4 linked regions of the Homo sapiens genome follow. The protein of the gene in region 1 purifies or fractionates together with the protein of each later gene. This does not show direct contact. Each region holds a gene or a part of one and is shown on either strand. Other genes may lie near its edges. The genes, in order: OR10H3, HMGCS1, PLS1 and PAK2.

The links.
Region 2: the proteins of OR10H3 (region 1) and HMGCS1 purify together in Homo sapiens (affinity purification with mass spectrometry; 3 studies listed by BioGRID and IntAct, with this or other methods). This does not show direct contact.
Region 3: the proteins of OR10H3 (region 1) and PLS1 purify together in Homo sapiens (affinity purification with mass spectrometry; 2 studies listed by BioGRID and IntAct, with this or other methods). This does not show direct contact.
Region 4: the proteins of OR10H3 (region 1) and PAK2 purify together in Homo sapiens (affinity purification with mass spectrometry; 3 studies listed by BioGRID and IntAct, with this or other methods). This does not show direct contact.

What each region holds. Positions count from the first base shown.
Region 1 is NC_000019.10:15,733,578-15,740,994, reverse strand, and holds the start of OR10H3 (olfactory receptor 10H3), read right to left. Parts: upstream 3,011-7,417; 5' UTR 2,944-3,010; intron 1-2,943. UniProt on the Homo sapiens protein: Odorant receptor.
Region 2 is NC_000005.10:43,310,413-43,317,450, reverse strand, and holds the start of HMGCS1 (hydroxymethylglutaryl-CoA synthase, cytoplasmic), read left to right. Parts: upstream 1-4,038; 5' UTR 4,039-4,095; intron 4,096-4,269; exon of another isoform or gene 4,270-4,429; intron 4,430-7,038. UniProt on the Homo sapiens protein: Catalyzes the condensation of acetyl-CoA with acetoacetyl-CoA to form HMG-CoA, which is converted by HMG-CoA reductase (HMGCR) into mevalonate, a precursor for cholesterol synthesis.
Region 3 is NC_000003.12:142,683,387-142,690,413, forward strand, and holds part of PLS1 (plastin-1), read left to right. Parts: intron 1-619; coding exon 620-785; intron 786-866; coding exon 867-1,009; intron 1,010-2,897; coding exon 2,898-2,990; intron 2,991-6,231; coding exon 6,232-6,427; intron 6,428-7,027. UniProt on the Homo sapiens protein: Actin-bundling protein. In the inner ear, it is required for stereocilia formation. Mediates liquid packing of actin filaments that is necessary for stereocilia to grow to their proper dimensions.
Region 4 is NC_000003.12:196,742,855-196,749,881, forward strand, and holds part of PAK2 (serine/threonine-protein kinase PAK 2), read left to right. Parts: intron 1-7,027. UniProt on the Homo sapiens protein: Serine/threonine protein kinase that plays a role in a variety of different signaling pathways including cytoskeleton regulation, cell motility, cell cycle progression, apoptosis or proliferation.

The sequences.
Region 1 (7,417 bases):
AGAGTCTTTGTCTTTTAATTGCTTATTTAACCCGTTTACATTTATTTTAATACTCATTTATTGATACTCATTTATGCCATCTTATTTCAAATTACACATTTACTATTCTAATAAATCTGAATAGAAAATTCAAAAATAAAAGGATGGGTAAATATATGTCTGAAGAATATGCACCAAATGAAAGCTGAGGCTGCAACCTTAATAAAAAAGTGGAATTTAAGGAAACAATGATCGCAAGGTCTCTAATACAATACACCTCTACAGGGAAGTAGAGTTCCTTAACACATGGCTGATCTGTGGTCTGGACATGGAAGAAAGCCTTGGACATCTTCTACCAGTGTAAAATGAAATTTTCACTAAGTAATGGGATAATATTAAAAGCCTGCAGGTACCAGATTGAAAAGATGCCCACTAGTCAAAAACAATAATCATTGTACAGAAGATGGAGGAACAAGCTAAATTATATAATGAGAAAGCTTTCAGAAAAATCCAGAAGGTGGATAATTCCACAGAACAATTGGTCTGGTTTCACTGATAGAGGTATATTGAAAGGATAAGAGAGATTCCAGGACATAGTAACTGGATGCAACATAGGGGACTAGTTGAATCTTGATCTACATAACCAGCTGTAAGTATTTTAAGGCAATAGAGAACATTTTGATTACAGTATGAATGAATGATTACGTATGAGTAATATTAAAGCATTATTATTGATCTAATTGTGAATTTTTTAGAGACAAGGTCTCACTCTGCCCCCTAGGTTACAGTGCAGTAGTAGGATCATGACTCACTGCATCCTGGAACTCCTGGGCTCAAGTTATGCTTCTTCTCAGTCTCCTAAATAGCTGGACTACAGATGTGTGCCACCTCACCTGTCTAATTAAACATTTTTTTTTTTTTTTTGTAGAGACAGGGCTTTGCTTTGTTGCCCAAACTGGTCTCTAATTCCTGGCCTCAAGCAATCTTCCTGTCTCAGCCTCCCAAAGTGGTGGGATTATACACATGAGCCACCATGCTCAGCTAATTATTTTTGTAAGTGTTATCTGGTTATTTTGACTATGAAGGTAAATGTTTAGTTTTTCAATGCATACCAAGATTTTTACATCTCACACACACACACATGCACACACACTAAGGGACAGAGAATAACATTTATACCCATTAAAAGAACATAGCAAACAGCATCAATACTATAAATCCATGTAACTATATATCCTGGAATATTCATTAACAAATAATCAATACAACTTCAGTGAGATAGATAGAAATAGCCAAATCGACGGCAGATTGATTATTTTTTTTTTGAGACGGAGTCTTGCTCTGTCACCCAGGCTGGAGTGCAATGGTTCAATCTCGGCTCACTGCAACCTCCCCTTCCCAGGTTCAACTGATTCTCCTGCCTCAGCCTCCCTAATAGCTGGGATTACAGGCGCGTGCCACCACGCCTGGCTAATTTTTGTATTTTTAGTAGAGGCAGGGTTTCACCATGTTGGCCAGGCTGGTCTCAAACTTCTGACCTCAGGTGATCCGCCCACCTCAGCCTCCCAAAGTGCTGGGATTACAGGTGTGAGCCACCACACCTGGCAGATAGATTATTATAGTTAGAAATTTTAACAGAGTTCAGAAATGCAATTTATTAATTATTAATTACAAAGCAATTAATAATATCCAGACATTAGCTATTATATATATTAGACTCTTCACCAAAAAGAAAATTAACACTCTTTCAACCACTCAGCGACTTTTACAAAAATGGACATTTCATTAGAATATAAAAATTTATTTAATTCCAAAGCATAATAATATGATATAGATTATAATGAATTAACATTAAAAATCAATAGGGAAGAAATAGCTTTACAAATCTCATGTGTTTGGAAGATAACTATATAATTAAATAATCTACAGTTTCAACAGTAAATCATAAAATGGAGGAATATTTAGAATTAAATGATAATTTAAATATTGAATGTCAACATTTTAACCTAAAATAGTACTTTGAAGGAAATATACAGCTCAAAATACCTTTATCAAAAAACTGCCTCAAGAAAAAAATCATGCATAATAAAATCAAAATCAAGTTATTGGAAAAAATTAATAAGATAAACAAGGAGAAGGTACCAATAACAGAACCCAAAATTACAAATGGGAAATAATTACAGAGATAATTGATATTTTTAAATTAATAAAAATAGTAAAAGAAATAACAAATTTACATTGTAGATGAAATGAACAAGTACTTAGAAAAATATAAAATTCCAAAACTGGTGCAAGAAAAAAGGGGATGCTATATGCTCAAATAAGCTTTAAAGAAATTGAAACGGTAGTCAAAGATCGTCTCTCTAAAATCTTTGCCCCAGTGGGTTTTATTAAAGTGCGGTAAGTACTATTAAACTGTTAAAAAAAAAAACAGTTGGTTAGAATCTTACACATGATCTTCAAAAAAATAGAAAAGAGTTAGGAAATCTGACAAACACATCTCCTCAAGTTAATGCAATCTTTGTCTAAAATCAGGCAAGAATCTTCACCGAGAAAAAGAGACAATTATAGGCCTACTTCACCTATCCAGGCAGATTTAAAATTCCAGAATAAAACATAACCTATTCAAATCTAATGGTGTATTAAAAATAGTTTACCATGATCAAGTGGCATTGGTTTATTCCATAAATGACAAGATTGGTTAACATCAGAAAACCTATCATACAATTTATCACAGGAATCGATTTAAAAAGAAAAATCATGATTATTTCAATCAAGGCATAAATACATTCTCTAAAACCCTACTCCTATTATGATTTAAAAAAAAACACTTCACAACACAAAATCCAAGGAGACTTTCTTAACTAGATATAGAATATATAGCACAAATTAGCAAATACAACACTGAAGAAGAAACTTTTCCATGCATCACTTTAGAGTCAAGAAAAAGCCAAGGATACTCACTAATTCCGCTGTTCTTTAACATGGAGCTGAAATTCGTGAGTGATGGTATAAGGTAAGGGAAAGAAACAAGTTATCTAAGGTATCTAAGGACTGGAAGGGAAGAGACGTGATCATCTACCTAGAAAAGATGAAAGAATGATGACATCATGTATTAGAACAGCAACAGAGCCCAGTGATGCAGAAGGCAAGGTCAGCTGGCAAAAACCCCAGTGATCCTCCTAGTATCACACCAGTAACAAGCATTCAAGAAGTATAATCTGAATACAGAGAAAGAGAACAGTCCCAATAGCAACACAAACTATTAATATAAAGAAACATCGCTCAGGATCCCTTTACACCTCAAAGTTACTAAGCACTCTAAAGGGCTTTTGTTTATGTGGTTTAGAACTATCCATTTTTACCATATTGGAAATGAAAATTGAAAATTATTAAAAATATTTAGTTATTAGTATATTTAAAAAAGCATGCCCAGGCACGGTGGCTCACGCCTGTAATCCCAGCACCTTGGGAGGCCGAAGTTTGTGGATCACTTGAGGTCAGGAGTTTGAGACCAGCCTGGCCAACATGGTGAAACCAGGTCTCTACAAAAAATACAAAAATTAGCTGGGCATGGGGGCACGCGCCTGTAATCCCATCCACTTGGGAGGCTGAGCCAGAGAATCACTTGAACCCGGGAGGCGGAGATTGCAGTGAGCCGAGATCATGCCACCGCACTCCAGCCTGGGCAACAGAGTGAGACTTCGTCTCAAAAAAAAATTTCTAAAGAGCAATAGTAAGTCTATTGAATGCTAATATGGGAAACATTTTCAGGCAAATAATCACATTAGGAAAAAAGCATTTCATGAGAAGAGTGGCCTTGTTTGACATTTTAGCCAATACCTCATATGTCCTAGCTTGGCAGGAAACAGCTTGATGGTTTCATCTGCCTCTTCATTCAGTCTGTGGCAATATATTGAAGCATATGATGAAAATATATTCTCACATGTAAATTTGAAAAATAAGGATTTCAGGGACCACTCTGCAGAGGTCCTCATGTCACACTTTGAAAAAATCTGCTATAAAATATCTAGGAATTAACCAAAAACATGACATAGCTCCAAAGAAAAAATTTTAAATACATACTAATAAAAATGTAGAAGATGATCTGAACACATGGGGAGCAGTATAGAGTCTTGGCTGGGATGGCCTGATGTGCTAATGGTGTCAATTCATCCTCAAATTATAACCTCAATACTTAATAATACTCAATAATATAATATTGTATTATATTTACAATTCCAGTGAATCAACTGTAAATTTGATAAAACTATTTGAAAATTCCTTCAGAAAAATAAATATCAGGCCAGGCACGGTGGCTCACACCTGTAATTTCAGAACTTTGGGAGGCCGAGCTGGGCAGAACACTTGAGGTCAGGAATTCAAGACCAGCCGGAGCAACATGGCGAAAGCCCGTCTCTACTAAATATACAAAAATTAGCCAGGTGTGATGGCCCACTTGTAATCCCAGCCACTTGGGAGGCTGAGGCACAAGAATTGCTTGAACCTGGGAGGCGGAGGTTGCAGTGTGCTGCCTGGGTGACAGAGTGAGACTCTGTCTAAAATAAATAAATAAATAAATAAATAAATATGGAATCAAGGGAAGAGCTGTTCCCTCCCACGCGCTGAGACACACAATAGAGTCATAGTCATTTTTAAAATTATGAAACGTGGAACAGACCTAGGTCTGGGTAAGTCGATTGGAAATCTCAGAAAATAACCCTGCATTATTCAAAACCTAATATAGTACACGATAAATGTACTGGCACAAATCAAGAGGAGAAGGTAGGTTGTTCACCCATTGTAGTGAGAAAACTGCTCATTTTATGAAGCAAGTCAATCCGAATTTCTGCCAAACTCTACATACAAAGGAGGATCCAGATGCATTCAAGAAATAAATACCAAATATCAAGGTGTAAATTTAAGAGAAGAAAGTATAGGAGAATAACTTTGTGATCTAGGCTTGAGGAAAGACTTCCTAAACAAAATTTCCAAAGCACAATCATTAAGATGATTTTTAAAACATTAAAAAAATCAACATTGAGGATTTCCATTCAACAAAGGATTTCCAGGATGAAGTTAACAGGCAGATGGGAAATGGGGAAAAATTATTTGCATTGTCTAAAACCGACAGGAGCACATCCAGTGGTGTGGGGAATTTCTTAAAAACTGACAAGAGAGTTATATCTAGAACAAACAAGGAACCAGTTATATCAAGAAGAAGTAGGTATCTTAATGCAAAAACGAGCAAAAGATGTGAGAAGATAATGCACAGGAATTACTCAGGCAGATGAAAGGATGCTCGAAAAAAAAGAAAAAAGAAAAAGAAAACAAAAAGGAAAAGAATGGAGGGAAGGGGAAAATGAAAGAGAGAGTGGAATTTCACTGTATACCTATGCAATTCCCAAAATTATAAAATGTCCAGTATTGGTTGGGCTATGAGGAGAAAGAAATATTTACGCACTATAGGCTGGGCGCGGAGGCTCACGCCTATAACCCCAGCACTTTGGGAGGCCGAGGGAGGAGGATCACATGAGGCCAGGAGTTTAAAACCAGCTATGCCAACATGGCAAAACCCTGTCTCTACCAAAAAGACAGAAATCAGCCAGGCTGGAGGTACACATCTGTAATCCCAGCTACTTGGGAAGCTAAGGCATAACAATCACTTGAACCCCTGGAGGTGGAAGTTTCAGTGAGCTGAGATGCCGCCACTGCACTCCAGCCTGGGCCACAGAGTAAGACTCCATCAGAGGAAGAGGAAGAGGAAGAAGAAGAAGCAGAAGGAGAAGGAGAAGGAGGGGAAGGGGAAGGGGAAATACTTACATACTATTAGTGGGCATGTAGAATGTTGGAAATTAAAATTTTTAATGGGATTCATGCTCTGTGTACCAGCAAATTTGCTACTGTATATCTATCTTGACTTCTGAAACCTGTTTATAGGGGGACATGTAAAAGAATGTTTCCTGCAGCAGTTATTTTAGTGGGGGTGATGGATAAGCCTGCTTGTCCCTAACTGGGGAGAAGGCAGGTAAAAGTATATAGAGGCAAACAACGGATATAGAGGCAAAAGGATATAGAGCTTTTGTCACGAGTTAGATGCACACATAGTAATATAAATGAACTTTTAAAATAATATTGAGTGAAAAAAACAAAAAAACAGAATGAACTCTTGTGGACACATTAAGAATATATGTACATAAAACTATTCTGAATGATATAGTAATAATGAACCCATGTCATTTGTCAAAATCCATATACACAATGCAAAGAGCATAACCTAATACAAACTATGAAATTTAGTTAATAACAATGCATCAATATTGGTTCATCGAGTGTAACACAGGTGATACAGAAATGCAAGATGTCAATAATAGGAGAGACAATCCCACATGCAGGGGTGAAGCGTATGTGAGAACTCTCTATACTTTCTGATCAATATTTCTATAAAGTTAAAACTGCTCTAATAAAATTAAGTCCATTAATTTACCATTTTAAAATAGTCACATTAAATTTTGTGCAGACAGAAAGCAATGTGTTTCTTACAAGAACATATACAAATCAAAAAGTGCATACTAAGTGTGTGAAAATGCCTGTCAAAGAACGGAAACAAAGTGAAACAAATGAAATAAGAGAAGGATCTTTCGCAAATCAATGTTAATCAAAAGCCACAAACTGAAAATATCATGGACTCAAACCTTTGCACCTGAATTCTACCATAAAAGAAACAAATATTTTTATGAATAATGTGAGCCACATTGCTACAAGAGTTTCTGAAATCTTTCTTTCTGGATGGGCCCATTCATCATTACATCCCCCTAGCAGTCTCACTAGGATATTGTCTGAAGTATCCCCTGACCAAAGCAGGAGTCAGTCAGGCGCTTGGAGAACACAGAATCACCCGGACAGTGAGGAACTTTACTGGAGTGAGGATGACGTATCCCACATGAAAAGACCACACTTATGACACGGAAGGAAAGTCTTCTGACCACGAAGCTGCCCTACCCAGAAACCATACTCCAGCATCAGCCATCTTCCTTCCCCATCCCTCCCATTGCTGGGCGCCCTCTCTCCTACTAAGCACTTCTCCATCTGCTCCCTTCCTCTCCATCCCCTCTCCTGGGCCACTGCCCCATCCTCCTCATCTCCTCTCCTCTGCACACACTCCACTCTGGCTTCCAGAGAGAATTTCCTGAAATGTTTACAAGTTGTGGAGGCATCAGACTCAGGGTGGAAACCCCAGCCATCACTGTGTGTCTTTGGAGAAACGACTTTGCAGCTTCGAGGCTACTCTCCCCAAGTGAAAAACAGGAGTAACCAGAGCACTGTGAGAGTCCACCTTGCAAAAGTCATTGTCATTGACTGATAATGATTTTGGTCTTCTGAGCTGGTTTGTTTGTGTTGTTCTGTTACAAATGTCACTTGCTGACCCCATTCTAGG
Region 2 (7,038 bases), on another chromosome or scaffold:
GGCAACCAGGAGTCTTGCCCCCACCGACACAGAGCTTTTATGCTGTAGTTGGTCCAACGTTCTGTGGACCACCAAAGAGCAAGGATGGACTGCCCTGACCAGTTTTTGTAATTTCCTAAAACCACACATTCATTTTACTAAACGGACAGCCCCCAATAACTGTCAGCTAAACCAGTGCAATCCTATATAGGTTATTATCTTGAGCCCCCAAAGTTCTTCCCCTTTTCTAAGCCAGTTCCCTTCTTTAAGCCGATTTTATGGCATGTGGGCTAGATGTCAGGGACAGACCCTATTGGATCCTTGAAATGCATTTCTTTGATCCCCTGCCACCTGCACCTGCCTTTAAGCCTTTTTCCAAAACCTCTCACAACGGAACCATTGTTCCTCCTCCATCTACCGACAAGGCCAAGATAGCGATGGTAGAAGTTAAAGACTTAAAACAAACTTTGGCAACTGAGACAGGATACCAAGATATAAATGCCTGGGTGGAATGTATCAAATATTCCATCCACACATTAAACAAAAGCAATTGTTATGCTTGTGCACATAGCAGGCCAGAGGCCCAGATTGTCCCCTTTCCACTAAGGTGGTCCTCCAGTCGACTCGGCATGGGCTGCATGGTAGCTGTTTTCCAGGATTCTACAGCCTGGGGTAACAAGTCGTGCCAAGCTCTCTCTCTACTATATCCCGAAGTCTGACACCCTGTGGGTCGCCCCCAAGGGCCATTCAGCTTCCATCTCCCAACACCAAGTTCACTTCGTGTGTCTCACAACAGGAAGGAAACTTAGCATTCCTTGGAGACCTGGAGGGATGAAGTAAGCTTAAGAATTTTTAAGAGCTTACCAGTCAGCCCTTGTTCATCCCTGAGTGGATGTGTGGTGGTATTGTGGTGGACCTTTACTAGACACTCTGCTGAATAACTGGAGTGACACTTGTGCTTTAGTCCAGTTGGCTATCCCTTTCACCTTGGCATTTTATCAACCAGAGGAAGGAAAAATAAGACATCATAAAGCGAGAGAAGCCCCTTATGGGTCTTTCGACTCTCACGTCTATTTAGATGCAGTTGGAGTCCCACAGGGAATACGAGATCAATTTAAAGCCCGAAATCAAATAGCTGCAGGATTTGAGTCAATATTTTGGTGGGTGACAATTAATAAAAATGCAGATTGGTTAAACGACATCTATTACAACCAACAGTGATGTATTAACTACACTAGAGATGCTGTTAAAGGAATAGCTGAGCAATTAGGGGCTATTAGCCAGATGGCTTGGGAAAATAGGATAGCCTTAGACATGATATTAGCAGAAAGAAGATGAGTTTGCGTTATGATTAAAACTCAATGTTGCACCTTCATCCCAAACAACGCCACCCCTAATGGAAGTATAACAAAGGCATTGTGAGGTCTGACTGCTCTATCCAATGAGTTAGCCAGCAACTCACGGGTAAATGATCCCTTTACAGGATGGCTAGAAAAGTGGTTCGGTAAATGGAAAGGAATAATAGCCCCAATTCTTACCTCCCTCATAGTCATAATAGGTGTACTTATTCTTGTCAGGTGCTGTGTCATACCATGCATCTGTGGGTTGGTGCAGAGGCTCATAGAAACGGTACTTACTAAAACCTCCCTTAACTATCCTCCACCTCATCCAGAAAAGCTTCTTCTTTTGGAAAATCAAGCAGAACAACTAAATCAAGACATGTTAAATAAGTTTGAAGAGAAAGCTGTAAGAAAAATGCAAGAGGAGGAAGTTGTTAAATATGAATTCTAAATTTCTCTTCAAAGAATTAATATGTCAGTATGTTCCATTCTTTGCCTTCTACTTTTAAACGTAGCTTCCTAGTAAAGCAACCTTTTCTGATTACCTACTCCAACCTGACTCATTCTCCACCTTGACTCATTCTGATTACGTACTCCACCTTGACTCATTCCAATTCATTCTTCACCCTGACTCATTTCATAACCATTTTTCCCGCCATCACTGTCTTTAAATTAGTCCATCGGAATTAGTTTAGCCTGTGCAGTCTAACCCTAGCCAATAAGGGAACGACACAGCAGTGGGGACCACGTGCGTCAGGAATAAGAACCCCTTTCCCTCCCTCGTCCAAGTGTGCACTCACCATTGCTCCATCTGTAAGGGTGCACCCTTCTATAGAAGTACCTTGCCTTGCTGAGAATTAAAAAGAAAATTTTATATTCGACTGCTATTTCTTTTGCAGCATGGAAACTTTATTTATAACAAGATCTTCTGTATCTAATTACTAACCCTTTTTGTTCTCCATTGCTTGGCTTCCCAGTAATCAATAATCATGCTCACTTTGCTTAATTGAAGATTAACGTGATCAAAAAGACGGTCTGTTCCTTGTAGAAATTTCCGGTTGTGTAAGATGGTCATTCTCATGACCGTCTGGCTAATCATTTCCCATTATGTACTCCTGGAGTTGGAATTATTTGCGATTCCTAACGACAAAACTGTATCTTCTTTCTTGTGTTTGTCCTTACTGCCTTTCAGCATATTCCAATATGCCAAGAATTTTAATCTCCTACCCCACCCCAAATTGCTGTTGATCATAATCAGGCAATGTCTCTCTCTCTGTTTACTATCTAGTTACTTTACATACATATGAAGTGAGTCATGGGCAATACTGTGGAATGGAAATCATTACTGAGTGGTCCTCTTCCCCCAAGTCATTTATGCCACCACTTCACAGTGGTTCCATTTCCAATATATTTTGCCACTTTGCTGCTGAGAATGTGTCTTACTAGGTTAGCATCTATAGTGGTTAAAAGAATCTCCCATAACAATAATTGTGTGAATCACAGAATTACCAATGACCCCTTATCAATAGCATTCCTGTTAATTAAATTGAGATGGGGAGAGATACAAACAACTCCGAACCTCACTCATGGTCCCCCACCAAAGCTAAGTATTATGGCTTCTCTCTCTGACCAGATAGAGGCAGAGTTTATTGCAAAGCCACAAGTGTCCTCCTTTGGATTCCCCCAAATAGTGTTTCAGTGAATTCCTCTAGCTTGAATTGCTCCTCTCTATTTGCTGGGGGAGTTAGGCAGTCCGTATCCGATGGATTTACTATGCCGACAATTACGTGGCCTTTCCACAGCCTTTTACTTGGCAGGTACCACATATGAAGCTTAGAAGATACAGTGGGCAACAGGCCAAATGGAGTCCCTTTCCTCAGAGTGCATGGCCTGGCAAAAATCCTTGAATTCAGTATCAACTTCCCTTCACAGGCAAGGCTCTGCACCCTCCCCACGGATGCCTAATCCTGAAACCATTTTGTTTTAGGTTTAGTTAGAAAGCTTTGTCTCAAGAGCACTTTTGTTTGTTCTGTTTTCTTTAAGTCAAGGTAGTTTTGAATAAAGGAGACAATATTTGAGTATTTACAAATCGGGTATTTAGACTATTTACACATATACAAGTTCTGGGTGAAGTATTCTGCTCCAATTTGCAATCTACGCACACTTTGCTAGAAAACGTTAAGACTGAATTCAAATCAAGTACAGTATTTCAGAAATCTTTCAGGTGAAGCCTAGTTCTGGTTGCTAGGCAACCTGACAGACTCCCAAGCTGGGACCACCTCGCCTCCCACATTTGACCATCTCTCCAGCGGTGGGACGCGGAGTACCCATTGGCCCGCATCTCCTCTCACTTAGTCCCAATTGGTCGGAGAACCTCTCACTCCGCTCCCGTTGGCTCTCGCCGTATCTCGCAGCTCCGTCATTGGCAACTGGGCTCTCGTGCCACCTCACGTCAGTCTCTCACACCACTTCCTCGGCCCTGAGACTTTGTCCCCGCCTCTTCTCCCCGCCCTTCCAGCCACGAGGGAAAATCCTAGCGAGTCATCGCCTCTAGTTTCCTTTTGATTGGTAGAAGCCGGACTGGGGGGCGGGCGCTGCCGGGCAACTCTACCGGCCGCGATTGGCTGTGGGAGCCACCGTCCCGCCTCCCAGCGACTCTCGGCGGTGCCGGAGTCGGGTGGGTTGGCGGCTATAAAGCTGGTGGCGAAGGGGAGGCGCCGCGGACTGTCCTTTCGTGGCTCACTCCCTTTCCTCTGCTGCCGCTCGGTCACGCTTGGTGAGTGTCCCGCGCTGGGGAGTAGAACTGGGCTGCGGAGGTGCCGCGGGCGGGGTGTGGGCCAGACAGAGGCGGTGTCCTTGACTAGGCCCGAAGGAGCTGGGGCTCTGGGTCAGGACGTAGGCGTGGACTTTGCCCGGGAGGATGGGGCACCGTGAGCGGGGCCGGGCGGGGGTTCCCTCGTGAGGGACCTGAGGCCGACCGTAGCGGATCTGAGAAGATCCGAGAACACAGGCGAGTCGCGGAGGGGAGAACGCGAGAGGGCGTTGAGGTCTAGGTATTCTAACGACAGAGGAGTTGGAGGTGCCAGAGAGGCAGCTGTGACCGCCTAGAGGTGAGTGGGGGGTGTCAGGAGGGGGAGAGAAGACAGTTGGGCTACCAAGGCGTTTCCAGAGCGTTGGTTAAGGGTGGACGCCAAAGGATGGGCAAGATCCTCTTTAGACGGAGGCTGGTAGGTTCGCAGGGGGTGTGTCCTGCTGCCACATATAGAGTTGATGGAAAGAAGGGAAGTGGGTAGCATTACTTTTCTTCCTCAGCTCAGGTGCAAGAAAGCGTTCACAACCGTGATTTAGACCTGGCTAAGTACTGGGGCTCAGTCTGTACTTGCTTCAAATCTCATAGATCACTGCCTCCCGCCTTCCTGCCTCCATATTTTTTTTTGTCTACGTTTTAAAAAATAGGCTTCCTTGGTGTTCTGAAATCCCACATCTCTCTCCTACTAATACCTTCGGGACCAGCTTTAGGTGATACAGTGTAATGGGCAGGCACTCACAGAGTCCTCCCACAAATAGGTTTTGGATTAAGCTAAGGATATTTCAAAGCAAGTATATGGAGTCTTTGAAAACCCACGTCTGGCCTTGACCAGTGGTAGAGAAACGATTATTCTGATCCACTCTGGAGGAGGGATTTGGGGAACAAATAATGTGAGGTTGTGCCTGTTTGTCATGCTTGTCCCTATGGCCTTAGCCTTAAGGCATCAGTAGCTGCTTTCACTGCTCACCTCTGCTGCAGCTCCCCACCTTCCCGAGGATGCTCTTGCCACCTGCTGCAGTAGGATGATGTGTTCTGGTTGCTGCTAACTAACATTTGCTCTGTTTTAGGCATGAATATGAAAAACAATGACAAGATAAACAACAAAATTAAGACAAATGGAAGTGCTCCTAGAGTTAACAGATTTTTCCTTCTGAGATGTGTTTTGGACTTTATTGCACAGATACTATTAGATGAGAGGCAGTTGAAAGTCGTTAACATTATCCGTGTCAGTAGTTCTTTGCACTTGAGACACCTAAGCAGCTTGTGTTCTTTAAACTTTATTTTAAAATTGCAGTTATTTTTGTGTGAAGAAGGGGGCAGGGATAGCATACCTTATGGGAAGAGAGAAAGGCTTTCTTTGTGTCTACCTTTGTAGATATTTCTCACCTAAGTTTGTAAGTTTGCCCTTTATTCGGTTCTACTTTAGTTCAGCTCAATTCTAGTATAATCATCAGTAACCCCAGCACTCAGAAGGTCTGACTTACGCTGTGGGGAGGGAGTGTAAAAGGATATTTTATGTTTGGAGCCATAGGCCACATCATTTGGGCCTTGTTTTAATTTTGTTTTTCATCTTAAATATCCCTCCAGATTGCTTTTACATCTTGTTTCTTTTAACTGTGGATTGATTTTGAGATTTTGACTTAGATTTTAGATAGCTTTTCTCAGAAGAAATAAACGCAAAAACCCGATATTGTTGTAACATCAGTTTCCTGTGTCCTCTAGAATCATTTAAAACCTGGTTGGATCTTCCATAATCCAGTGGAATTGGATATGAGATGTAGCTGGAGAAGTTTGTTTTGCTACATATCAGAATCTCCAATTAGTTTCATTTAGAAAGGAATATAGCCTTATAATTTTATGCTGGGTTACTGTGGAACCAAATATCATAGAAGGATGTGTGATATTTTTATGTTTTTCAAGAAGGTAGTATAGATTTAAAAGGTGGGATACATATTACCTGTCCTAATGATAGGACTAGATTTTTTTTTTTTTTTTTTTTTGGGGAGACAGAATCTCGCTCTGTCGCCCAAGCTGGAGTGCAGCAGCGTGATCTCGGCTCACTGCAACTTATGCCTCCCAGTGATTCTCCTGCCTCAGCCTCCCAAGTAGCTGGGACTACCGGCATGTGCCACCACACCCAGCTAATTTTTTTGTATTTTTAGAAGAGATGGGGTGTCACCATGTTGGTCAGACTGGTCTTGAACTCCTGACCTCAAATGATCCGTCCGCCTTGGCCTCCCAAAGTGCTGAGATTACAGGCGTGAGCCACCATGCCTGGCTAGAACTAGACTCTTAATCTCTTCATCCTAATGCATGGCGTGTGTTGATGTTCACTTAATGTCTGTCAACTGGGTGTAGTTACACCAGTAGCGGAGAGGCTAATCTTTGAAAGCCTGAAGTGTTGTCTTCATCTTTGCAGGGTTTTTAGTTGTGGGTGCATATGGGAATGATTGTAAGACCAACAAATGTTTTCTGATTCCATATGGGCTTCTTACATTTTTCACCTTGGAATCTGGGAACAATTGAAACCTACCATATGCCTTGAACAGTAGCAGTAAAGAGCCAGTTTCTTTAAACTAGACATTATGGTGCTGCAGCTCATCTCAAAACTGATAGCAGGCTACTCTGGACACACTACATATAGAGTAGCCCTGCTCTGCAAGGAGCAGTAATAAATTAAAAAAAAAATTAAAAAGTGATAGCAGAAAGCACTTACTACTGAGGGCTGCTACAAGTATTAAATCTAAAAGATTTGTCCTCTAGTAGTTATAACTCCAAATTCAGCCACTGAAAAATGTGACATTTGAGTACCCTTTACTTCAAGGTCTCAAAGGGATTTCAAAAAATCAAAATATATAGCCCCTCTCCCAAAAGAAGTGTAGGAATCCTGTATGGATAAGAAGACTGCCC
Region 3 (7,027 bases), on another chromosome or scaffold:
TCAGCTACTCAGGAGGCTGAGGCAGGAGAATGGCGTGAGCCCAGGAGGCGGAGCTTGCAGTGAGCCAAGATAGTGCCATTGCACTCCAGCTTGGGTGACAGAGTGAGACTCCGTCTCAAAAAAAATAAATAAAAAAGAGGATGGGCTCGGGAGACCGCTGGGATCAGACCCCGGCCTTTCCACTGTGGAAACTGTCAGTGCTGCAGTTTCCTCATCTGTAAAATCCATCTTAAGAGTTACTTTAAAATTATCTTAAAACCTAATTGTACATCATTTTTTAAAGAAGTGCTTCCAAATGAGCACTTTACAAAAATATCATGTTGAGTTTGAGGTATTGGCAGAACATCCAGGTAGACATAACCAAGTACATATATAGATACACAGCTTAGAGTGGAGACTCAGAGGAGGTCTGGGTGGAAATAGGGATTTGAAAGTCATTGGCATATAAAGTAACAGTTAAAACCATGTGTTTTTTTTTTTGAGTAGTGGTATTTTCGTTGTATAAATATTATGTTTATAAATCTGAAATTTGGCAGTCCATTGTTTCTTATAGATAATTTTTATAGATAAGACCTTAGAAAGGACTTCCTCATGTGTACTTTTTTTTTTGGCAATTCAGGAAAATTTAAACCTAGCTCTGAATTCTGCCTCAGCCATTGGTTGTACAGTGGTCAACATTGGTGCATCAGATCTCAAAGAAGGAAAACCTCACTTGGTCTTGGGACTTCTCTGGCAGATCATCAAAGTTGGCCTTTTTGCTGATATTGAGATTTCCAGGAATGAAGGTAAGATCATTAGAAATATTTGCTGTTCATTGACATGTACTTGCTATGGGAAGAATTTACATTTCGCTGTTTTGCCCTCAGCTCTGATTGCATTGTTAAATGAAGGTGAGGAACTAGAGGAGCTGATGAAGCTTTCTCCCGAGGAATTACTGCTGCGATGGGTGAACTACCATCTGACCAATGCAGGATGGCATACCATCAGCAACTTCAGCCAAGACATTAAGGTTTATATTTAAATGTTCAAATTTGTGACATGAAATAAGGATGTGCAGTGTAAAAATAAAAGGGGTTCAGACTTAAATTTGAATTAAATTCACAAGAACACTTGGGATAGAAAATGAAAATTTGCATTACTGTGTGAAGTAGATCCCCCAATTATATTCACAAAATATATATTTTCTAAAAACCAGATATATTGGCTTTTAATAAGAACTACAACTGACTGTGAGAGGAAAGAGGTGCTAGCCTCAACAGATTAAAACACACTTTCTCATTTTTTATGCCTGAGATCTGCTAGATTATAATGAGGATGTCAGTCTGTTCATTTGGACTAATAATTATATCTGTTTACTGGTTTAACACTCTTACTCCCACTTTGCCAATAACCAGCTAACAGGAAATCAGATTATCTGAGGGTACAGAGAATCAGTAAATAAAGGGGATCTTAAGGTATGTGCCTTAACCAGGGTAGCTTAAAACACTTCCCTCTCTACTGGGAGAATCTTGTCAAGGAAACTATAACAGGCATTTTTGTCTAATGACAACTTTCCCTTGGTTACTGCCTGGATGGGCATTGCCAAGCCGGGTCGCTGTGACTTTTTTCTTCTCTCTGTTTCTTTATGTCCTCCCCCATCCTGCCCCCCAAGAGTAATCAGTGCTGGCTCTAATTCATGTTCCGTCTTTAGCTATATAACCTTCAGTCAGGTTATCTTTTTCCATAATGGCCTACAGGACAGTCTCTCAATTTGAAGTGACATTTTATTTCTCTGCTTTCATCTACTATACACTGTTATATTTGAAAGTTTATTTGGGAGATTTCTCTTATTCTGAAATCTCTGAAAATTCAGCTAATCAAACATTTATTCAGCTCTTTCTGAGGGGCATTATGCCCAGGCGATGCAAAGACTCAGCTCTTGAGAAGCTTGCCAATTCTACTCAGAGACAAACATGTACCAGAGGGATATTTCAGTTATCTATTGCTATATAGCAAATTATGCAAAATTTGCTTAAATAATGATTATTTCTCATCATTTTGTGGGTTGATGCATCTTGGCTGGGTGGTTCTTCTGCTTCACATGGTTTTGGCTGGGATTACTAACTCGATTACATTCAGCTGTCAGTTGGGCTCATCTGGAAAGTACACAAAGGCCTCAGTCACATGTCTGGTGCCTCAGTGCTCCTCCACAAGGCCTCTCTACATGGTGAGCTCAGGCTTCCTCACAGCATGATAGTCTCAGATAGTTGGACTTCTTATGTAGAGGTTAACTTTAAGAGAGAGGAAGCAGAAGCTCTTAAGATTTGGGCGTGGAAGCCCCAGAACATCACTTTCACAGCATTCTCTTAGTTAACGTGAATCATAAGGCCTGTCCAAATTAAAGAGGACAGGAAATAGCTTCTGCCTTTTGGTGGGAAGAGTTAATGTATGCATGGGGAAGAACTATATATCCATCTTTGGAGACAATGACATTAGATGATTTAATAGTGTGATCACTGTTTACTTATTAAGATAGGCAAGGGGTGCTGTGCACTACAGAAGAGGGGTTCTTAGTTCATCCTAGAGAATCCAGGGAAGGCATACGGGAGATAATACTTGACCTGAATCTTAACTGATGTTGATGCTTGGGTGTGTAAACAGATGGAAAAGTAAGGGAGGGTATCCAGGTGCAGGAAACAGCATTGCTATAAACTCTGAGGTGTGAAACAGGATTGCTTTGAAGCTCTGAAGTGTGAAACAGCATGGTACATTCAGGAACCTACAAGTAATTCTTTATTTTTAAAGTTATTCCATTCTTTGAGATAGAGGCAATTTCTTCAGTTTGAGCACTTGTTTTCCCTAAATTCAATGATGATTTTATTCGTTTTAAAAATGCTATTTCATATCTTTCCTTGAAGGACTCGAGAGCCTATTTTCATCTGCTTAATCAGATTGCCCCTAAAGGTGGGGAAGATGGACCTGCCATTGCCATTGACCTTTCAGGAATTAATGTGAGTGCAATTTTTAACTTTTAAAATATATTGTGGTAAAACAGACGTAGAAAATTTACCATTTTTATCATTTTCAGTGTTCAGTTCAGTGGCATTCAGTACATTTGCATTGTTGTGCAGCTATCACCATTATCCATCTCTACAAACTTTTCATCATCCTGTAGGGAAATTCTGTACTCATTAAACAATAACTCCCCATTTTCCCCTTCCCCCAGGCCCTGGTAACTACTGTTCTACTTTTTGACTATGAATTTGAATTTCAGTAGCAGGTACAGTCAAATTTAGAGTACAGTTCTCTACAAGCAGCATTCCCCAGTAGAGCCCTCAGCCCTCCATTAAAGTTTGGTGCTTTGCTCTATGGAAGTTTTTTCCATGCCCAAGGCTCCAAGCCTCCATGTCAAGCCAACTGGCTATCATGACGGAAGAAAGGGAACTGCGTAATTGTGACCTGGAGTATTTGTGGAATCAATCCTACATTCATGTTTCCCTGGTGCAAGGCAATTGGAACTCACCAGGGTGCTCTTTTGACTGTCAGCATATGCCAGGAAAGGAAGCAACAACCTGTTGTTAGATTTTTAAGCAATCAATTATCAGTTTTACCAGCTTATATTTAGAAATCTACAAAATAAAAATAGATATTCATGGTGTAGGAAGGACTGATACAGATTCTGACCTACCAAGCATACTTCCTAGGAATCTCATTCTTTTAGCATAAGTTATAAATACCAGGGATGGTTCTATCTAAATCAGGATGTCCAGTCTTTTGGCTTCCCTGGGCCACATTAGAAGAAGAATTGTCTTGGGCCACACATAAAATACACTAACACTAACAATAGCTGATGAGCTAAAAAAAAAAAAAAGGTGCAAAAAAATCTAGTGTTTTAAGAAAGTTTACAAATTTGTGTTGGGCCACATTCAAAGCTGTCCTGGGCCGCATGTGACCCACCGGCCGTGGGTTGGACAAACTTGAATTCTAAACATTAAAATTTGGTCAGATAATAGACTGTATGAAAATATATCACGTACTTAAAGTGCGGCGTCCGTAACATTTGGTTTTAAAGGCAACTTGAGTCATTACTAATTAATTATATCTCACATTATTATAATGACATATTTCAGAAACACAGTATTGCAACGCTCTGTAAAATGTGCAAATCATTTTAAGTAAAAAAATTAGGAACTTAAACTTATGGAAAATTTTGAATATATTCAAGAGAACAGACTTAGTATACTAAACTATCAGGTACTCATCCCTCAGTTTCAACATCTGCCAATTCATGGTCAATCTTATCTCGTTTATTCCCTATTTCTCTCCTCTCCTATATTATTTTGAAGCAAATCCTAGACATTACTTCATGGATAAATATTTCAATATATATTTCTAAAAGACAAAGACACTTTTAAAATAAAACCACAATACCTTATCATACCTTAAAAAAATTACAACAATCTGTAACATCATCAAAATATCTAGTCAATGTTGACATTTCCACTTGCCTCATAAATGCCATTTTTTTCATAGTTTATTTGAATTAGGATCTAAAATAAGGTCCACATGTTGTCTTTATTTGTTTGTTTTTTTTTTTTTTTAGATGGAGTCTTGCTCTGTCGCCCAGGCTGGAGTGCAGTGACACAATCTTGGCTCATGGCAACCTCCGCCTCCTGGGCTCAAGTGATTCTCCTACCTCCACTTCCTGAGTAGCTGGGATTACAGGTGCACACCACCACACCTGGTTAATTTTTGTGTTTTTAGTAGAGACGGGGTTTCACCATGTTGGCTAGGCTGGTATCAAACTCCTGACCTCAAGTGATCCGCCTGCCTCTGCCTCCCAAAGTGCTGGGATTACAGGCATGAGCCACCACGTCCAGCCACATATTGTCATTTTTTGATGTCTACAATGGTAACTTTTCTTTGTTAATTTAATAATCTGTTGCTTTCTCTGATTTCATTTATATGATTAATTATTTTGCAACTCTGGTGCACAGAATTAGGTAGGTTATCTTTGGTCATGATATACTCATATGGGTCTGTGCATACCCATTTTTAAATTTATTTTTGTGTGTGGTTGTTTGTTTTGAAATTGTAACAAGCCTCATGAACTCTCAATCTAACAGGAAAACTAAAACTTTGACGTGACATTTTCTGTACAGTTCTTCCCTATCCCACCTCGGTTTTCGCCCAGTGTGGTAACCACAGTCTTGAATCTTGTGTTCATTGTTGTTCTGCTTTTCTTTTTATGTAGTTTCCCTTCATCCAAATGTATCCCTTACAAAATTAAATTCTTCATTTTACTTTTTAACTTCCTTTAAAGTTTATCATGTTATACTTAAATTTCTAGTACTTCTTTTTGGCCTTGTATCTCTAAGAGTTACCCATATTGGATGTCATTGTGTGAATATACAAATTCATTCATCTACTCTCCTGTTTATAGGTATTTGGGTTGTTTCATTTGTTTCCAGGGTTTTGCAATTGTGAAAGGTGCTTTTCCCTATGATTTTAATTTTTAAAATATGTATTTCAACTTGTTTTTCATCAAGAAGAGCCTTCTGGAAATGTCACTCAGTGTACAGTGGGTATGATAACTATGCCTGTTATCCAGAGGGCACTCTACTAGCTGGTCTTGAATAAGTTATCTATAGTGCAACCAGTAGGAGCTTACTGATACAATATTTGAGGATTTTGCTGAGTATTTTAGCAAAAAGGGTAAAATATAACTCAGTTATCCCAGCAAGGAAATTCAGAGACTTTTTTCCTTTTAACTTAAAAGGCACGGGGGCTGGGCTTAGTGGCTCACGGCTATAATCCCAGCACTTTGGGAGGCCGAGGTGGGCGGATCAGGAGTTCGAAACCAGCCTGGCCAACATGGCAAAACCCTGTCTTTACTAAAAATACAAAAATTAGCTGGGCATAGTGGCATGTGTCTGTAATCCCAGCTACTCAGGGGCTGAGGGAGGAGAATCACTTGAACCTAAGAGGCAGAGGTTGCAGTGAGCCAAGATCACGCCACTGCACTCCAGCCTGGGGAACAGAGCAAGACTCTGTCTCTAAATACATAAATAAATAAATAAATAAATAAATAAAGGAATGGGTAAGTTGACTTGGAATTACTACACATTTTGATCTTATTTTGAGTTATTATTTGATATATTTGTGGAAAAGTAATTGCTTATAAACATGTATACCAATAAAAATTATGCCAATTAAAACTTCAATTGTAACCATTTTTGTTTTATTGTTTAGGAGACAAATGACCTGAAGCGTGCTGGACTCATGCTTCAAGAAGCAGATAAACTGGGCTGCAAACAGTTTGTTACTCCTGCAGATGTGGTTTCAGGCAATCCTAAACTTAATTTAGCTTTTGTAGCTAATTTGTTTAACACATACCCGTGCCTGCACAAGCCGAATAATAATGACATCGATATGAATTTACTGGAAGGTGCGTTCTTTCTGCCTTTAATTGACTTGCTATATTTATCTTCTTATGGTATTGTCTTACTTCACTGTCAGAGATAGGGGATTGTGGTGGGAAATGCAATTTAGTGTGTGTAGGTATGTGTATCTATTGAAAAATTAAAATTATGGAAGGTGGTTGCTGGTTTTGGTTAAAAGAGAATGCTGGGGTAAATCTTTTATTTCTCCATAAGAGGTTAGTGAAAACTATCATACATTTAAAATATTCTCATAAATGATCACATAACAGCTCTACCACCAACATGGACAATGAATTATCTATTAGAATAAAATAATTATTTGTAGGTGTTTTTCTCCTTTGAAAGGTCCAGTTTGACTCTAGTATTGTTCTCTTTTTAAGGTTTTTAGTGTACATGAAAAAAATTACAGTGTTCGTTATTTGTCTTTTGTGTGGTCTATCGTTATCTGTCTCATAATATATAATACTTTCCTGTTTTGCTTCATGAAATGCAGATTTGACCCCTCCTAATGTAGGTACTGTATTTAGTACTTTTCTATACTCTATAAATATATTCATTCTGAATGTTCTTTTTATTAGTACCATTTATTCTTTCCATCTGGGTTG
Region 4 (7,027 bases), on another chromosome or scaffold:
GCTTGCAGTGAGTCGAGATCGCGCCACTGCACTCCCGCCTGGGCTACAGAGCGAGACTCCGTCTCATTAAAAAAGAAAAAGAAAAAGAAACTGGGTCAACTTCAAGACTTTAAGTCGTAAAGGTTTCCATCAGTTTGGTATAAGAGTTGAGTTTCCAGACTAATCAGAGGGAGGGTGTTAATTGCAAATTGTGTGTCCAAGCTCTTCCTAGTATCCTTTTTGTGCCTTAACAGAGCAGAATAGGAAAGGAAAAAAATCCCTCATTGCCCCCAAAAAATAAAATACTGGTTGTTTTCTTCTGTGATCAGAGTTGAGTTTCATCACTTCTTCCCTTCTAGGGTCACCTGCCTGGTTAAGGGTAGTCAGTCTGAACATTCATTCAGGATTTCAGTGTTCCAGCCTACTATCTCTGAGTTTCTTTAGTACTTACTCCATGTATCCCATGTGGTTAGGAGCTAGAGTCCTGCGTTTGAATTCTTGCTGTTCTACTTTACCCTGGGCAAGATATACATTCTTTTCAAGACTTGCTTTTCTCACCTGTAAGATGGGGATAATAATAATAATACCAATTTCACAGGGATATTTAGATCAAATGAGGGAATGCAGGTAAAGGATTCTGTAATTATAGGTCTTAATAAACGTTAGTTAATAGTCTGTTCTTACATGCTGTAGAGTCGATACTCCTAAACTTAGAATTAAAACTGCCTTCTAGGCCGGGTGCGGTGGCTCACACCTGTAATCACAACACATTAGGAGGCTGAGGTGGGCCGATCACTTGAGGTCAGGAGTTCAAGACCAGCCTGGCCAACATGGTGAAACCTATATTCTCTACTATTCTTTAGTAGAGAATTTAGTATTCTCTACTAAAAATAAAAATATTAGCTGGGCGTGGTGGCGGGCGCCTGTAATCCCAGCTACTCAGGAGGCTGAGGCAGGAGAACTGCTTGAACCCAGGAGGCAGAGGCTGCAGTGAGCTGAGATTGCGCCACTGCACTTCAGCCTGGGTGACAGAGTGAGACTCCGTCTCAAAAACAAACAAACAAACAAACAAAAAACTGCCTTCTAAAAGAACGAAGTTTCTGAGACCGTAACTAAAAATAAAAATTACTTTTGGATGAATAAAATGTAATTTTTCAGGAGAAAAAATATGTAATAGTTTCACCACTGAAATAAAACATAGGGTTTTTGAACACAAATTTCTCAGATTTAAAAATATGCATATTTCCTGTATAAAAGTTGAAAAGTGGGCAGTGGCTGGTGGTGCCTGTAGTCCTAGCTACTTGGGAGGCTGAGGATCCTTTGAGTCCAGGAATTTGAGGTCAGCCAGGACAATACAGGGGGACCCCATCTCTTAAATCAGACAAAAATAAAAGTAGAAAAAAATATTAAATAAGAAATTTGGAAAGTGGTAAAAACTTTTAAGACAAAATTACCTTAGTCTCAGCTGGCAGAACCATTGTAACAAACTGGAACAGTGGTTTTGTTCCTTATTTTAAATTTAAATTCTAAAAGCAGTACATATTTATTATAAAAGGTTCAAACAAGTCAATTAAATATTTAAAGAGTGAAAATTCTTTGGGAGACTGAGGCAGGAGGATCACCTGAGCTCAAGAGTTGGAGGTATAGTGAGCTATGATTGCACCATTGCATTCCAGCCTGGGTGACAGAGCAAGACCCTGTCTTATAAAATTCTTAAAAAGTGAAAATTACTTTCTCTTTTTAGTCCCATTCCTTAGAAGTACCTACCCGCTGTTAATAGTTTTACTTACTGAGTTAGAAATAAGTAGTACCTTTTGTGTGTCGGATACTTTTTATGTTGATTTTAAAATAAAAAATCTGATCATTAAGTATTGTTTTCCATATCATGACATATAGTGGCACCTCTACTTTTTAAGTCATTAGATATTATGCTGTATGGTAGTACTTTAATTATTTGTGATCATTTATGTTATTTCTAACTTTGAGCAACTAAAACTAGAGCCTTAATGAACTTATACGTATGTCTTTGTGCACATGCATATGTAGATAAGTATTTCCATTAAAACGACTTGTAAGTGTGCATTTAAATTTCTTTTTTCTTTTTTTTTTGAATTGCATTCCAAAAAGACTTGTAATGTATATTTCCTTATTGAGTTGTAGAAGCTCTTCACATGTAATAGATATTAATCTATTGCCTTCTGTTTAAGATCTTCCTCATTCCACCTTTACAAAAAACATTCTTATGTGTTTTCTTCTGGTACTTTTAATAATTATTGTGTTTCAATCTTTTTTTTTTTTTTGTGACAGAGTCTCACTCTGTCACTCAGGCTGGAGTGCAGTGTTGGATCTCAGCTCACTGCAACTTCCGCCTCCCGGGTTCAAGTGATTCCCCTGCCTCAGCCTCCCGAGTAGCTGGGATTACAGGCACCATACCATCGCACCCAACTGATTTTTTTTTTTTTTTTTTTTTTGTAGAGACGGGGTTTTGCTATGTTGGCCAGGCTGGTCTCAAACTCCTGACCTCAGGTGATCTGCCTGCCTTGGCTTCCCGAAGTGTTGGGATTACAGGCGTGAGCCACCGTGCCCAGCCCATTGTGTTTCAATCTTAATCTTTCTGGAATTTTTTCATGCCTGGTGGGGATAAAAGAGTTTTAAAATAGTTTTGCTACAGAAATAAAATACAGGTATAAAAATATTTGGCCGGGTGCAGTGGCTTACGCCTGTAATCCCAGCACTTTGGGAGGCCTAGGTGGGTGGATCACCTGATGTCAGCAGTTGGAAACAGCCTAACCAACGTGGTGAAACCTTGTGTCTACTGAAAACACAAAAAATTAGCTGGGTGTGGTGGTGCACACCTGTAGTTCCAGCTACTCCGGAGGCTGAGGCAGGAGAATTGTCTGAGCCCGGGAGGCGGAGGTTGCAATGACCTGAGATCAAGCCACTGCACTCCAGCCTGGGCAACAGAACGAGACTCCATCTCTAAGTAAAAAAAAAAAAAGAAGAAGTAGTAACTAGATTTTTCTGTTCATTGGTATTTTTATTATCTTACTGGACTTCAGTAAACGTCTTTATTTTGTTTTCCAGGTTCATTGTTTTATCTGAGAATAATAGTAACTTCAGTCACTTTTCTATGGTTACAATATTTAACCTTTTTTTTTTTTCTTTTTCTTTCTTTTTTAAAGACGGGGTTTCACCGTATTAGCCAGGATGGTCTCGATCTCCTGACCTCGTGATCCGCCTGCCTCAGCCTCCCAAAGTGTTGGACAGGCATGAGCCACCGTGCCCAGCCCTTAACCCTGTTTTAGGTCTTTATTACATTGGCCTGAAGTTCCAAGACTTGGTTAAACAAGAGACGTGTCGTTGTCTTGAAATGACTCTGGTATTAATATTTTTACAGTTAGGGATGATGGCAGCTGTTGGATTTAGAGAAAGATTATTATTTTATTCTGTTTCTGCTTTACAAAAAATAGGAATGGCTTCTGAATTTTATGAGATGCTATTGTAACATTTAGATGATGATATGGTTTTCTTCTTTTAACTATTGCTGAGGATATGTAATAGTAAATTTGCTATTAATCAAAGGTATCACAAGGTATATATCGTGAATAACCAAAATCCCACTCATATTAGTCCTGCGTACGGAATTTATTGAAAGGTTAGAGGAGAATCTCATATAAATTTAGATTAATAAGAATAGGCCGGGCACAGTGGCTCATGCCTGTTATCCCAGCACTTTGGGAGGCCGAGGCAGGTGGATCAGCTGAGGTTTGGAGTTTGAGACCAGCCTGACCAACATGGAGAAACCTGTGTCTACTAAAAATAGAAAATTAGCCAGGTGTGGTGGCAGGTGCCTGTAGTCCCAGCTACTCGGGAGGCTGAGGCAGGAGAATCGCTTGAACCCGGGAGGCGGAGGTTGCAGTGAGCCGAGATCGTGCCATTGCACTCCAGCCTGGGCAACAAAAGTGAAACTCTGTCTCATTAAAAAAAAAAAAAAAAAGGATAGGCCTTTATGATAACTTCTGTAGTTAACTTCTATAACCTATTCAGGAATCCTTATTCATGAGTCACTTTTGATAATTCGTATTTCCTAGATCATTTCTTTTAGATTTTCAAATCTGTTACTATATAGGTGTGTATAATCTTTTGTCATTAAGATCTGTGGTATTCATTTCCTTTTTTTTATTAGTGATTTCACTATTTTTCTGAATTTGCCAAATGTTTGTCTACTTAGTGGTTTTTTTTACTAACCAGCTTTGAGATTTACTTATTGTATTGGTTTTTTTTTGTTTGTTTTCTGAATGCCTGATTTCTACTTTTCTCTTTATTTTGCTCTCCTGCTTTTTTTTTTTGTTGTTAACAATGTTAACATTAAGTTAATGTTAATGTTATTAATTCTTAATGAATTCTTAGTTCCTTTAATGTGTTTTCGATGAGCGGTAATCGCTCCTCGGATAGACCTCATTGGCTACGATACCGCCACTGTGCAAAGCTAGTTCATTTTAATGTCTTTTAATAATAAAAACCTTTAATGTTCTTAATTTGCTTTTGAATGCAGCGTTGGCTGCACATTCTAATTTACATGGACAATGTTCTTCTGCTCAGTATTTTCCAAATAGCTGGTGGTTCTAGTTTTGATTTCCTCTTTGACTCAGGAGGTATTTAGGATAATTCTATTCACTCATATTTTCTTTCATTGTTGTCAGCTTCTATAATCTTTTAAAATATCTTTTAAACTTATTGAGTGTTTCTTGTGACTTAAAACATAATCCATTTTGGAAAATGTTCTATGAAAACTTAGAACATTTTCTGTTGGTAATATACAGAGTTTTATACATAACCTATTGATTAAATTTAATGACTAAGATTATTTGTATGAATTACCAGTTTTTATAAATAGTTCTTACTAAATATAGGACTTAGTCTTTATTAGTCCTAGTAAGAACTATAGTCGTTATTAATAATTCTTATTAATGTAAAAATCTTCCTAATCTGCCAAAGACAAAGAGGTAGCATTGTTTCTGAGAAGCTTGTTCTCACGTTGGGACCTTTAGATTTTTATTTCTTCTGCCTGAATGTCACTGAGGCCATATTTGAAAGAGATCTTTCATGATCACCTCTGCCTACCCCCACTCCGCATCTAACTTCCTGCCCTTCAGTGTGTTTATTTTCCTTTATAGCACTTCCATCTGAAGTTTCTTTTTCATTTATTTGGTTTTCTTTAATATACTATTCTGTTTTACAGAGCTTTGAACAAATAGGTATGAAATAAGTATGTGTTGGTTGAGTGTCACTCTCTTATTTCTAATGATTTTTAGAAATTTTTATTCATTTTAATTAATAGACTTTGCAGCATTTTAGGTTCACAGCAAAACTGAGCCTAAGGTACAGAGTTCCCATATACCCCATGCTCCTCATGCCCCTCTTCTCCAAGCCTCCTGCTCATCAACATCCTGCATCACTGTGGTATATTTGGCACAGTCAGTGAACCAGCATTCACACATCATCACTGCCCAAAGCCCACAGTTTACGTTAGGGTTTGCTCGTATGGTATTGTACATTCAGTGGGTTTTGACAAATGTATAACAACATGTCTCCACCAGTATCATACCGACTGGTTTCCGCACCTTAAAACTCTCTGCTCCACCTGTTCCTCCCACTTTTACTGCAACCCCTGGCAACCGCTGATCCTTTTACTACCTCCATCGCAATGCCTTTTCCAGAATGTCCCGTAGTTGGAATTATATAGCGTGTAGCCTTTTCAACTTGGCTTCTTTCACTTAGCAGTATGCATCTGAGGTTCTTCCGTGTCTTTTCATGGCTTGATAGCTCATTTCATTTTAGCACTGAATAATATTCCATTGTCTGGATGTACATTCACCTATTGAAGGACCAGGTTTGGTGATTATGAATAAAGCTGCTGTAAACATTGATGTGTGGAGTTTTTTATTGTGGTGTAAAATACATGTAACAGAACTTACCATCTTAACCATTTTGAAGTATACAGTTCAGTGGTACTAAATACATTTATAGTGTGCAATTATCACCACCATCCATCTCCGAAACTTTCCATCCTGCAAAACTGAAATTCTATACCCATTGAACCATAACTCCTCATTCTCCTTTCTGTCTGCATGATTTTGGCTACTCTTATGTACCTTATGTAAGTGGAATCATATTTTGTGTTTTTGTGACTTATTTCACTTATCCTCAAGCTTCATCTGTGTTGTAGCATGTCAGAAGTTCTTTTCTTTTTTTTTTGGGTGAATAGTATTCCCATGTGTGTATTTACCTTATTCTGCTTGTCCATTTATTCATCAGTAGACACTTGGATTGCTTCCGTAATTTAGGTACTGAGATTAATGCTACTACGAACATGGGTGTACAAATACCTCTTTGAGACCTTGTTTTCAGTTATTTCGGGTACATACCCAGAATGGAATTGCTGGGTCATATGATAATTCTGTGTTTCATTTTTTGAGGAACTACCGTATTGCTTTCCACAGCGCCTGTATCACTTCACGTTTCCACCAGCAGCGCACAGCAGTTCAGTTTCTCTACATCCTTTTTAACACAACCGTTGTTGTTTTTAATAGTAGCCATCCTAATGGGTATTAGGTGGTATCATGTTAGTTTTGATTTGCATTTCTCTAGCAGTTAGTGATGTTGAGCATTTTTTCATGTACTTATTGACCATTTGTATATCTTCTTTGAAAAAATGTCTATTCAAGTGCTCATGTGTAGGTTTTCGGGTGGACATAAGTTTTCAGCTGATTTGGGTGAATACCAAGGAGCATGATGGCTGGAGTGTATGGTAAGAATGTATTTCATTTTGTAAGAAACTGTTCAACTTTCTTCCAAAGTGGCTGTACCATTTTGCATTCCCACCAGCAATGGATGTGGGGGTTCCTGTTGCTTCACATCTTTTCCAGCATGTCATGTTATCATTGTTTTGGATTTTACCCATTCCAATAGGTAGTAGTGTTTCATTGTTTTCTGTTTTTTTTTTGAGATAGAGTCTTGCTCTGTTGCCTGGGCTGGAATGTAGTGG